Homo sapiens: one gene and its partner. The protein of the gene in region 1 interacts with the protein of each later gene in a pairwise test. Each region holds a gene or a part of one and is shown on either strand. Other genes may lie near its edges.

What was found. Proteins that work in one complex are often made in the same cells at the same time.
Region 2: the proteins of PAGE1 (region 1) and TMEM254 interact in binary tests that used the Homo sapiens proteins (3 or more experiments, as listed by UniProt).

The regions. Positions count from the first base shown.
Region 1 is NC_000023.11:49,692,958-49,700,161, forward strand, and holds the start of PAGE1 (P antigen family member 1), read right to left. Parts: upstream 3,028-7,204; 5' UTR 2,912-3,027; exon of another isoform or gene 2,902-2,911; intron 1,822-2,901; 5' UTR 1,814-1,821; coding exon 1,751-1,813; intron 1,245-1,750; coding exon 1,142-1,244; intron 1-1,141.
Region 2 is NC_000010.11:80,088,653-80,093,074, forward strand, and holds the end of TMEM254 (transmembrane protein 254), read left to right. Parts: intron 1-1,727; coding exon of another isoform or gene 1,728-1,760; exon of another isoform or gene 1,761-1,779; intron 1,780-2,144; coding exon 2,145-2,265; 3' UTR 2,266-3,899; downstream 3,900-4,422.

The DNA.
Region 1 (7,204 bases):
CACAGGACATGTATAATACTTATATTCGGCCATAGAGTACCAACAGCAGTGTGCATCAGCTGAGAAATCTGAAGTCTACATCATGGATAGGATTTCAGTTACAATTACAGTGTCAGTTTCTGAAGGATTGAGCAGCTGGATGGATTTGAGGACTATGGAAAATCTTACAGTCACGACACCCATTGTCTACTGGGGTAAACAGAAACTTAACTTTGTTCAAATAAAGTTATATTTAGGTCCAAAGGTCCTAAATGTAATATTCCATAAATGAACCCCATGTAGAACAAAGCACCAAAAATAACACTATTTGTGAATTACAGCAAATATACTGTCTCACGCTGAGAACAAAGGAATGAGTGGACAGCAATTAATGGGCATTGTTGTCAGTCTTATTCTAGATACCTTTAACAGTGAATCCTTAGAATAATCCATGACCTGAGTTAGATAATTGTTTTGCTTCAAAATATTTTATCTCGGAGAAATTATTTCCATCTCATGTTAATCTCAGGATAATTCCTTTTTTTTGGTTTTTCTAACCATAAAAGGATTTAATCACCTCCTAAAAGCCACTTAAAAAATCATACTACACCAGCTACCTGTATGGCAGTATCCTGAATTCTCCAGCTTTCAACAAACTTACCACATAAAAATATCAAAGGAAATGGTGGCCAGCAATCAGGAACTCAGTTTTTGGAGTTGCTCCTGCTCCTCTGAACTGGGTCTATTCCTGGGCCAGTACTAAGCTACATTACAGTAAAGCATTTGAGTTTTAAGCACTTTCAGCAAAATCATTTACTATTGTTACAGCAACATAGATGGTAGGAAGACACAAACTTTGGAACAAAACACAAATTTTGTATTCACCAGTCAAGTGTTCTTGGACAAAACACAATCCCCGGGCCTCCATTCTCTCATTCATAAAGTGGAGAAATTTTATCATAGTGAGGGATTTATTTCCCTAAGGTAAGCTGCAAACTATACCCTCTTCACTTTTCCAGTCAATTTCTAGGCATCGTTTGCATGGCTTTCATTCCTCCTGTTCCTGGTATGTGACAATGCATGAGACACACACACACACACACACACACACACACACACACACACACACCCCAACAGGCATTCTTCTTCCCTTTCCCTTCACCTTGAGCTGCAGATGCTCCCTCATCCTCTCTCTCTTCAGCAGGTGTAGAATCCTGACTTTGAGTTGGTGATTCCACTTCGTCAGGTTGCTCATCACTGGACTCCTTGTGGTAGGGAATATGTGTGTGAGTGTGCAAAGACAAAAAGTTTTGTTATTAATACATGTCAAAAAATATATACGTATACACACAGAGAATGCATAGATGTTTCTGATCATAACTAAACCTAAAAATATTTCTCCAACTTTATTCTATATGGTTAATAAGGCTACTCTACCCACAGAAAGGTTACTGCGAGAAAAGTTACCCACAAGGACTTTGGAAGCTATTGCACTCTATGTTGGAATAGATGTGTATAATCTATGTGTCATTCACAAGCAAAGCATGAGAAAGAAGTCATGGCCAAAAGTTGGAGAACACAAGAGAAAAAAAAAATCCTCCTGAATCAATATTTCCTTCATGAGATACCAGAATCTTATTTTTTTAATCAGCATGAACTACCTTTATTAGTGTATCTATACTAATGCAACAACACTATCACAAAAATTAATTTCTGCTAATAGAAAACATCGAATTAACGTTAAAGCACTCAACAGCATAGGCCCAATTACCTCAGAAGATTCTACATAGATCATTGGTCTACGCCGATAGATTAATCTTCTTAGAAAACCCATATTTCACACTGAAAAGAGAAAATTGTGATTGGGAACATGCACTTGAGAGGACAGCTATATTCGATCACTTCCATGGCTAAATGTTAACTTGTCATTTTAATTTTGAAAATACTCTCAAAATAAGTCCCAGAGTTAAGTGCAAGTGTGTACGTTTTCTGAGTGCTTGCAAAGCCACTTATGCTCCCCAAGCTGGCAGAGTAGTCATCTTAAGGCATGTGGCAAAAGGCAGAGGACATTATTTTAAAATTTCTTTTAGACACAGAATCTCGCTCTGTTGCTCACGCTGGAATGCAGTGGCGTGATCACACTTCACTGCAGCCTCGACCTCCCGCTCACGCGATCCTCCTGCCTCGTCCGGAGTAGCTGGGACTACAGGCGCGCACCACTGCGCCCCTCTGACAGAGGACGTTTCTGATGAGGTTTAGTTTCACAAGCGGACTCCACATGAAAACACTAGTGAATCACAATTCCCGTGACTGCTGCTTTTGGCACACTCCCACTTACTAGAGCCATTCACCCCCCTCAAATCAAGTTTGGTTGGGCCACACAGCCTCTCCCAGTCCTTCCCATTGTTTCCGGACCTTCTATGGCAGAGGTGAGACCTTGCCACGCTTCTCACTCGGGTGTTTCTCACTCGGGCACTCCCCACTCCACACCGCTGGGGGGCGCTCACCAGCCCACAGCCTTCCCAGGTTCCAGGCCCCTTCTTTACCGCCATCTTCACCACCCACCTCCCGCCTCGGGGCCCCATTCAGGACTCAGGAATGTGCCCTGTGTCATGGGTTCCTACCACCTCGGGACTTTGACCCCTCCAACAGCACCCGCAGCACTCGCCTCATTTTCACCTGAGCCCCTGACCGCTTCCCCTTCATGGCCCACTTTCCTCCCTGTCCTGGCCCCTTCACGACCACAAAGCCGATGGCGGCGTCGCAGCCTGTGAGGAGAAGGAGGACGAGCTCGAGGCCCTTCTCTTTTGGAGGCCACTGAGGCCCTTCTCCCTCAAAAGCCACACACCACCAGACCGAGGGGCCCACCGAACCTGCCCGAAGCCCACTGGCTCCGCCTGAAGCCCACTGGCTCCTCCTCACCCTCACTCACACTTCAGCCCCTGGGAGGACTGGCCTGCGGATCTACCAGATGAGTCTCAGTAGAGGAAAAAAGTGTCCGGACAGCAGGAACGCGACTGCACACTCTCACAGCTCCCTGGCGTTCTCCACGTGGGCGAAGGGGCCGACGGGAAGGCACCCAGTGAACATGCGCACTGAGGCTAGCACCCAAAGGTGGGGAGGGCTGCAGTTCCCAGCCCCACACCCCACACTCCCGATTTTCATCCCCGTGAAGATAATGGAATCCGACCTCCCTCTGCTGTTTCATATGCCTCGGGTACTCAAATACCTCAAATAGTGCTCCCCTCAAAACTCATTCCATCTTCAACTGAGCCCCCCTCCCCTCCAGGGCCCTCTCTTGCTCTGGCCCTGCCATAGGGACAAGGACCATGGTGGCTGCCTGTGAAGTGAGGTAGACGACCTGCTAAAACAGAAATAGCAACATACCTCATAGCATTATACAAGACTAAGAGTCTCATAACTAAATATTAAAAATGTCTAGCATATAATTCAAAATTACTCAGAATATGAAGAACCAGGAACATAGGGCCACTGAAATAGGGAAAGACAATCAGCAGACATCACTGCTAAGATAGAGATGTTGGGATTATGTGGGAAAGCCTTTAAAGATGCTATTTTATAAACGCTTAGGCTGGGCGCGGTTGCTCATGCCTGTAATCCCAGCACTTTGGGAGGCCGAGGCGGGTGGATCTCTTGAGGTCAGGAGTTCGAGACCAGCCTGACCAACATGGTGAAACCTCGTCTTTACTAAAAATGCAAAAAATTAGCTGGGCATGGTGGCGCGCACCTGTAGTCTTAGCTACTCGGGAGTCTGAAACAGGAGAATTGCTTGAACCCAGGAGGCAGAGGTTGCAGTGAACCGAGATCACGCGACTGCACTCTGGCCTGGACAACAGTGAGACTCCGTCTAAAAAAAAAATGCTTAAACAAGCAATCATGAACACTGTTGAAACAAGTAAAAACAAAGTCCTGGCACACACACAAAAAAAGAATATTTAAAGAAGAAGCAAATGGAAATTTTAGAAGTGGAAAATATGATAACGAAGGAAAATAATTCTCCCCAAATGGATTCAATAGCAGAATGGAGACAAGAAAAGAGTTTGTGAACTCAAAGATAGAGAAATAGAAATTGTTCTGTGTGGCCAAGAGCAGTGACTTACACCAATAATCCTAGCACTTTTGCGTGCTGAAGTAAGAAGATAGATGGCTTGAGGCTAGGAGTTTCCAACCTGGGCAACATAGTGAGACCTTGTCTCTACAAAAAAACAATTAAAAATAGCTGAGTGTGATGACACATGCCTGTAGTCCTAGCTACTGTGAAGGCTGAGGCAAGAGGATCCCTTGGGCCCAGGAGTTCAAGGCTGCAGTGAGCTATGATCACACACTGCAGTCCAGCCTGGGCAACAGAGTGAGACCCTGTGTCTAAAACAAAACAAAAAGAAATTGTTGAAGTGTCTCATAACCTGATATTCAAAATGTCCAGCATATAATTCAAAATTACTCAGAATACGAAGAAGCATGAAAGTTAGGCATCTTGGCCAGGTGCAGTGGCTCATACCTGTAATCCCAGCATTTTGGGAGGCTGAGGCAGGTAGATCACGAGGTCAGGAGTTCAAGACCAGCCTGGCCAAGATGGTGAAACCCCATGTCTACCAAAAATACAAAAATTAGCTGGGTATGGTGGCGGGCACCTGTAATCCCAGCTACTCGGGAGGCTGAGGCAGAGAATTCCTTGAACCCGGGAGGCAGAGTTTGCAGTGAGCCAAGATCGTGCCACTGCACTCCAGCCTGGGTGACAGAGTGAGGCTCCATTTCAAAAAAAAAAAAGGAAGTTATGGAATTTCAAATGGAGAAAGACAGACAACTGACACCAATGCAAAGACAGAGATGTTGAGATTATCTGGGAAAGCCTTTAAAGATGCTAGTTTAAAAAAGCTATAAACATCCATGTCCAGACACAAGTTTTCAACTCCTTTGGGTAGATACCAAGAAGTACAACTACTGGACTGAATAGTAAGAGTTTGTTTAGTTTTGTAAGAAATACTGCCAAACTGCCTTTCAAATTGGCTTTACCATTTTACATTCCCACCAACAACGAATGAGAGTTCCTGTTGCTCCACGTCCTCCCCAGAATTTGTTGTTGTCAGTGATCTGGATTTTGATCATTCTAATAGCTGTGTTTTTGGTGCAGTTTTCATCAACCCTGGCTGCCCATTGGAATTGCCTGGTAGAACATTTTAAAAATGTTGATTTTCGGCTGGGCACAGTGGTTCACACTTGTTATCCCTGCACTTTGGGTGGCCGAGGTAGGTAGATCACCTGAGGTTAGGAGTTCAAGACCATCCTGGCCAACATGGTGAAACCCCATCTCTACAAAAAGACAAAAATTAGGCTGGGCGTGGTGGCTCATGCTTGTAATCCCAGAACTTTGGGAGGCTGAGGCGGGCAGATCACCAGGTTAGGAGATCGAGATGATCCTGGCTAACACGGTGAAACTCCATCTCTGCTAAAAATACAAAAAATTAGCCAGACGTGGTGGCAGGCGCCTGTAGTCCCAGCTACTTGGGAGGCTGAGGCAGGAGAATGGCATGAACCCGGGAGGTGGACCTTGCAGTGAGCCGAGATTGCGCCAGTGCACTCCAGCCTGGGCGACAGAGCAAGACTCCATCTCAAAAAAACAAAACAAAACAAAAATTAGCTGGACATGATGGCAGATGCCTGTAGTCCCAGCTACTCGGGAGGTTGAGGCAGGAGAATTGCTTGAACCTGGGAGGCAGAGGTTGCAGTGAGCCGAGATCGTGCCATTGCACTCCACCCTTGGTGACAGAGTGAGACTCCGTCTCAAAAACAAACAAACAAACAAAAAAACCACAAAGATATCGATTATCAGCCTCCACCCCAGGACAATTAAGCTGGGTCTGGGGCTTAGTCATTTATTCATGAGCATTTAAAAAGTATTTCTCAGGTTATTTAAATGCGTATCTGGTGTTGAGGATGGCTAGTTTAGAACATATATTACCAATAGGCCTTTGACGAAGTGTTCAGAGCAGTGAGAAAGGTAAGATGTAAAGCTTTTACCATCTTAAAGTCAACCAGCTTATTGGAGATGGCTTGATCAGACACTTTTGGAAGACCCTGCTTGAGATAAATCAAATATAAGCAAAGTAGTAGTAGATGTTGAAGCAGAGACAGCTAAAGGGACATTAGAGCTGCAATTTAGGGCCTTTCAGGGTTCCCCCAGATGATTAAAACTAACCAGAGGCCATAACAATCATCTTTTCTAAGACTATAGAGAGAATAAAAGCAGAAGGAAAGGGAGAAAAAAACCATAACTATTTTTTAAACCTTTCCTAAACCCTTAGCATATTTTGTAGTCCTTACTCTATCACCTGAACTAGTCTATTTTATAAAGCGGCCTGGATAACCTTTAAAGTCCTCTATGTGGGTCTCTATCAGCATTTGCCAGTCATAACTAATGGACTGAGATAGAAGACACAGAAGCTGTGCCTGTAGAAGAACATAAGACAATGACAAGAGACCAAAAGCAGGTCCATTTTGTACAGCTGCCTGGGGGTGTACATTTAGGAGGACTGCAAAAGTTAGAAGACATACCTTACTTATTAAAAGTGGTAACTAGAAAATGTGCCCCTAAGGAAAATCAGTATTTTTTTAAAGTATACCATTCAGTATTTTTAGTATATTCACAAAAGTTGTGCAACCATCAGTACTAATTCCAGAACATTTTCATCACCCCTAAAAGAAACTCTATTTTCTGTCTTTATGGATTTTCCTATTCTGGACATTTCATGTAAATGGAATTATACAATATGTAGCCTTTTGTGTCTGGCTTCTTTCACTTTGTGTAATGTTTTCAAGGTTCAACCACATTGTACCATGTATTAGTATTTCATTTTTTATTATTGCTGAATAATATTCTATTATATTGATGTACCACATTTTGTTTACCAATTCATCAGCTGATGGACATTTAGGGTCTTTCTACTTTTTTGGTCACCGTATATAATGTTGCTGTGTGTATTTGTGTGCAATTTTTTCTATGGACATATGTTTTCATTTCTCTTGAGTATACAGCTAGGAGTGGAATTGTTGGATCATAGAGTAATTCTATGTTTAACTTAAAGTGCCAAACTATTTTCTACAGTAGCTTCCCCGTTTTACATTCCCATGAGCAATGTATAAAGGTTCTTCTTTCTCTGCCTCCTCAGCAACACTTGTTATTTTCCATCTTTTTGATTATAGCCAT
Region 2 (4,422 bases), on another chromosome or scaffold:
TCTCCAGGAGGCTGAGGCAGGAGAATGGCATGAACCCGGGAGGCCCCGGAGCTTGCAGTTAGCTGAGATCATGCCACTGCACTCCAGCCTGGGCGACAGAGCAAGACTCCGTCTCAAAAAAAAAAAAAAAAGATAGGGTATCATTATGTTGCCAAGGCTGATGTCAAACTCCTGGGCTCAAGCGATCCACCTGCGTCGGTCTCCCAAAGTGCTGGAATTACAGGCCTGAGCCACCACACCTGGCCAACTTTTGTTGTTGTTTTTGTTTTTGTTTTTTGAGATGGAGTCTAGCTCTGTCGCCCAGACTGGAGTTCAGTGGCATGATCTTGGCTCCCTTTGTTTCATTTCATTTTCTAATTGTCTGATGGTACTTTGTATGAATATAGTCAATTTTTTATATTGACCTTATACCCAGCAATCTTGCTAAATAAATTTATTAATTGTAACAGTTTATAGATTATTTTCAGTTTTTAGGTATAAAACTGTCCAGAAATACAGTTTTATTTCTTTCTTTCAATTCTGTATACCTTTTATTTATGTTTCTTCCCTTATTCTACTAGCTAGAACTTCCAGCAGTGCTGACTAGAAGTGTGCCTTGTTCTTGACCTCAAAGGAGAACTTTCAACATTTTGCATCATGTTTATTATAGAGTTTTGTAGATCTCCTGTGTCAAAATTAGGAAGTTCCATTGTATTTCTAACTTTGCTGAGAAGTTTTATTAAAAATGGATGTTGGATGTGGATGCAGGTGGCTCACACCTGTAATCCCAGCACTTCGGGAGGCTGAGGTGGGAGAATCAGTTGAAGCCAGGAGTTCAAGACCAGCCTGGGCAACAAAGCAAGACACTGTCTCTACAAAAAACAAACAAAAAACCTAGCCAGGCATGGTGGTGCGTGCCTGTGATGATCCCAGCTACTTGGGAAGCTAAGGTGGGAGGATAGCTTTAGCCCAGGAGTTTGAGGCTGCAGTGAGCTATAATTGTACCAGTACACTCCACTGTAGGTGACAGAGTGAGACCCCATCTCTGGGGGGGTTGGAAAAAGAATGGATGTTGAAATTTGTCAAATGCAGCCGGGCGTGGTGGCTCACGCCTGTAATACCAGCACTTTGGGAGGCCGAGGTGGGTGGATCACGAGGTCAAGAGATCGAGACCATCCTGGCTAACACAGTGAAACCCCATCTCTACTAAAGAAATACAAAAAATTAGCCAGGCGTGGTGGCGGGCTCCTGTAATCCCAGCTACTCGGGAGGCTGAGGCAGGAGAATGGCATCAACCCGGGAGGCAGAGCTTGCAGTGAGTCAAGATCGCGCCACTGCACTCCAGCCTGGGTGACAGAGCGAGACTCCATCTCAAAAAAAAAAAAAAAAAGAAATTTGTCAAATGCCACTTCTGCATTTATTAAGATATTCATATGATCTTTCTGTTTTAATCTGTTACTGTAGAAAATTATATTGCTTTTACATATATTGTTTTTAAAGTTTGTTTTAAATAAAAGTCATCCAAGTGAGACTTATTTATGTACAGATGAGACTGTAGCAAGCCATTCCCTTCCATTGGGTCATCTTTTTTTTGCACTTCATTTTAGGCAGTTGAATTTGAATGACAATATAAGCAGGTGTTTATCATGACTGTGTGCCAGGCTCCTTCCTGAGCATGTTGTGTGTATTATCCCATAAATCATCTCAACTGACTCAGTGAGATAGCTACTGCTGTTCCTGTTTTTCAGATGAGAAAACTGATTCTGAGAGATTCTGAGTGATTTGCCCAGGTCACAGCTGGTAGGTAGCCACGCTAGGATTTATATCTGGTCTATTTGCAAAACATTTGCTCTGAAACCATACCAGTGCTTTTTACTCCATCCGCTCATCAGAATCACATGAGAAACAGTCTTATAATACTGTGCCCTAGACAGTAGCCAGACTAGTTCTCAGGGAATAGTTTACCATCCAAAATACATTTGTTAGAAAACAAGAAAGATGAAAAATAAATGAACCATCCAAGATAAGCCAGAGAAAAGCAGCAAAATAAACCCAATGAAAGTAGTGGAAGGTATAATTTAAAAAATATATATATAGAAGACAATAACTCCCATGAAACTGTAAGATTAACATCTCGTGTTTAAATTTTGTTTTTTCTGTTTTAGGCATAAAGGCATCACAAGTGGTCGGGCTCAGCTACTCTGGTTCCTACAGACTTTCTTCTTTGGGATAGCGTCTCTCACCATCTTGATTGCTTACAAACGGAAGCGCCAAAAACAAACTTGAAGTTGTCTGAAAGCTTGCTCTACACTTTTACATTCATCCTCACCCTTTTTTTTGTGGGGTAGAGGAGGTGCAGTAATTTACTCAGTGATCTTTCTACTTTCTAGAAACTGTCCTTCAAAGCTCTTTAAGACCCCCTCGTTAGTCAGTTTTTTCTCTTATATGCTCTGGTTGAGCTTGAATAGACCAGTTGTTACTTAAGAAAGAAACAGAGAAAGATTTTAGCTTTTCAATCCTATTTGGCAGAGGACTTCAGCTACCTTCTTACAGTCTTTGGCTGTGTTGGTACCCTCGTGTGCTCTGAGCTAAGCCACATACTAAACTGACTTTTTGGTTTGTATACCCTTGCTCCCGCCTTCTGATGAAAACACCTTACCCTCACAACCACCATCTTTCCTCTCCTTTCCAAAGCTCTTTCCACCTTGCTGCACTAAGATAAAGTGACACTTCCACTATATGTCAATTCCACACACATTTATTAGGTACCTGTGAGGTAGGATCCTATCCTCTCAAACTTCCATTTCTCATGCTACAGAGAAAGATAAGGAAGATGAGCAAGTGCCTGGAATGGGGCAGGCTGAGCAGTCACACAGGCATAGAGGCACGCTGAGAACCTGGAGGGGAGACTGCAGAGTGCCTTCCCTGATGCTGCAGCCGGAAGTGATCCTTCCCTCCACCTGGCCCCTGGGACACTGTGCTCTGCAGTGTGCAGGGCCTGATGGCACTGCTAGATTGCTCCTTCAGCTCAGGGCCACAGCTTAAACAGCTTTACCTTTCCCCTCAGCACCTGTCCCACTATCTTGCACACAGGTGCTCTAACCATGTTTATTGAACAAAGGAGGGAAACTGATTTCACTTTCACTTGTTCATTATCATTCCAATTTTTATGTGAAAATGGCACAACCCATTTGGGGTACCCTCACCCCAAAATAAAAGCCCAAGTCTACCTTTGACTGGTACCACCTTTTTTGTGGTTTCGTTGGTGAGAAACCTTTATCTTTTTCATACCTTTCTATTCTCAATCACTTCTCCAAAAGTGTGTCTTTCCAGCTCTGATTTATTCAAAACACAAGCATTTCTGTTTAGAGATTCTAGCCCATGGGTTATCTGGCTAGTTATTACCTCTCCTGTTCACTTAGTTATACTTTATTATTGCTCACAGGCTGGGGAGGCAGAATGACTCTGTCACCACTAGGAGCCATTAGGGCTTCTTCCCTGGAGGACTGCCTGCTTGCTTTCTGGGGACACTAGCCCTCATTTCCCTTCTGTGGTACAGTGGGGCAAATTATTTGTATTAAGCAAACATTTATGGGAAACAACCCGCTCCCGAAAACGGAGCCCCCAAGTAAAGCACAACCCTGAAAGATTATGAACTATGAATTGTCTCTGGTAGAGATAAATTTCTGCAAACATATCTCAGTCTTCCCTCTGTTTCTCTGGTGATTAAGAAGTTCCTTTTTGGTAAGGAAAAGGATTTTTAACCATAGAGTTAGGCATCATGGAAATTCAAACCAGATTTCTTAATACCTGGTCTTCCTCAAAGAGAAATAATAACAGTAATAGTGGTGCTGGGAACAATATGGCAGATTATTGAATGAAATTGATTAACTTGAATAAAATGCTGTGAATTTTCTCTAGCTGAATGCTTTTCTTGTATTTGTCAGTTTTAACATATTGATGCACATTTGATACTTTTTCTCAAATAGACTACTAGGGAACTGTTTATACACTTCAGATATCAGTTTGTTTTTCACTGATAAAGAAATGCAAAACACTGTGGTTGTCGGGTATATACGTACTATATTTTAGAACTGTCCATGTCCCACTTACCTCCTCCACATACAAGGAATCACTAGGGTGGACCTGAGTGTCTCCTTTTCATTGTAGGATTGTCTCCTTTTTGTTTCTGTTTTTATTCAACATTTGATAAAGTCTATGCACTAAGTAAGGAGTGTTCTGGCATTTTTTTAAATGCATGAAGTCCGGTATGCATCACTTAACAATGGGGATGCCTTCTGAGAAATGCACTATTAGGTGAGTGCATTGTTGTGCAGATATCATAGGGTGTACTCACAAACCAAATGGTAGAGCCGACTACACACCTAGTTTATATGATACAGTCTGTTGCCCCTAGGCTACAAACCTGTACAGCATGTAGAG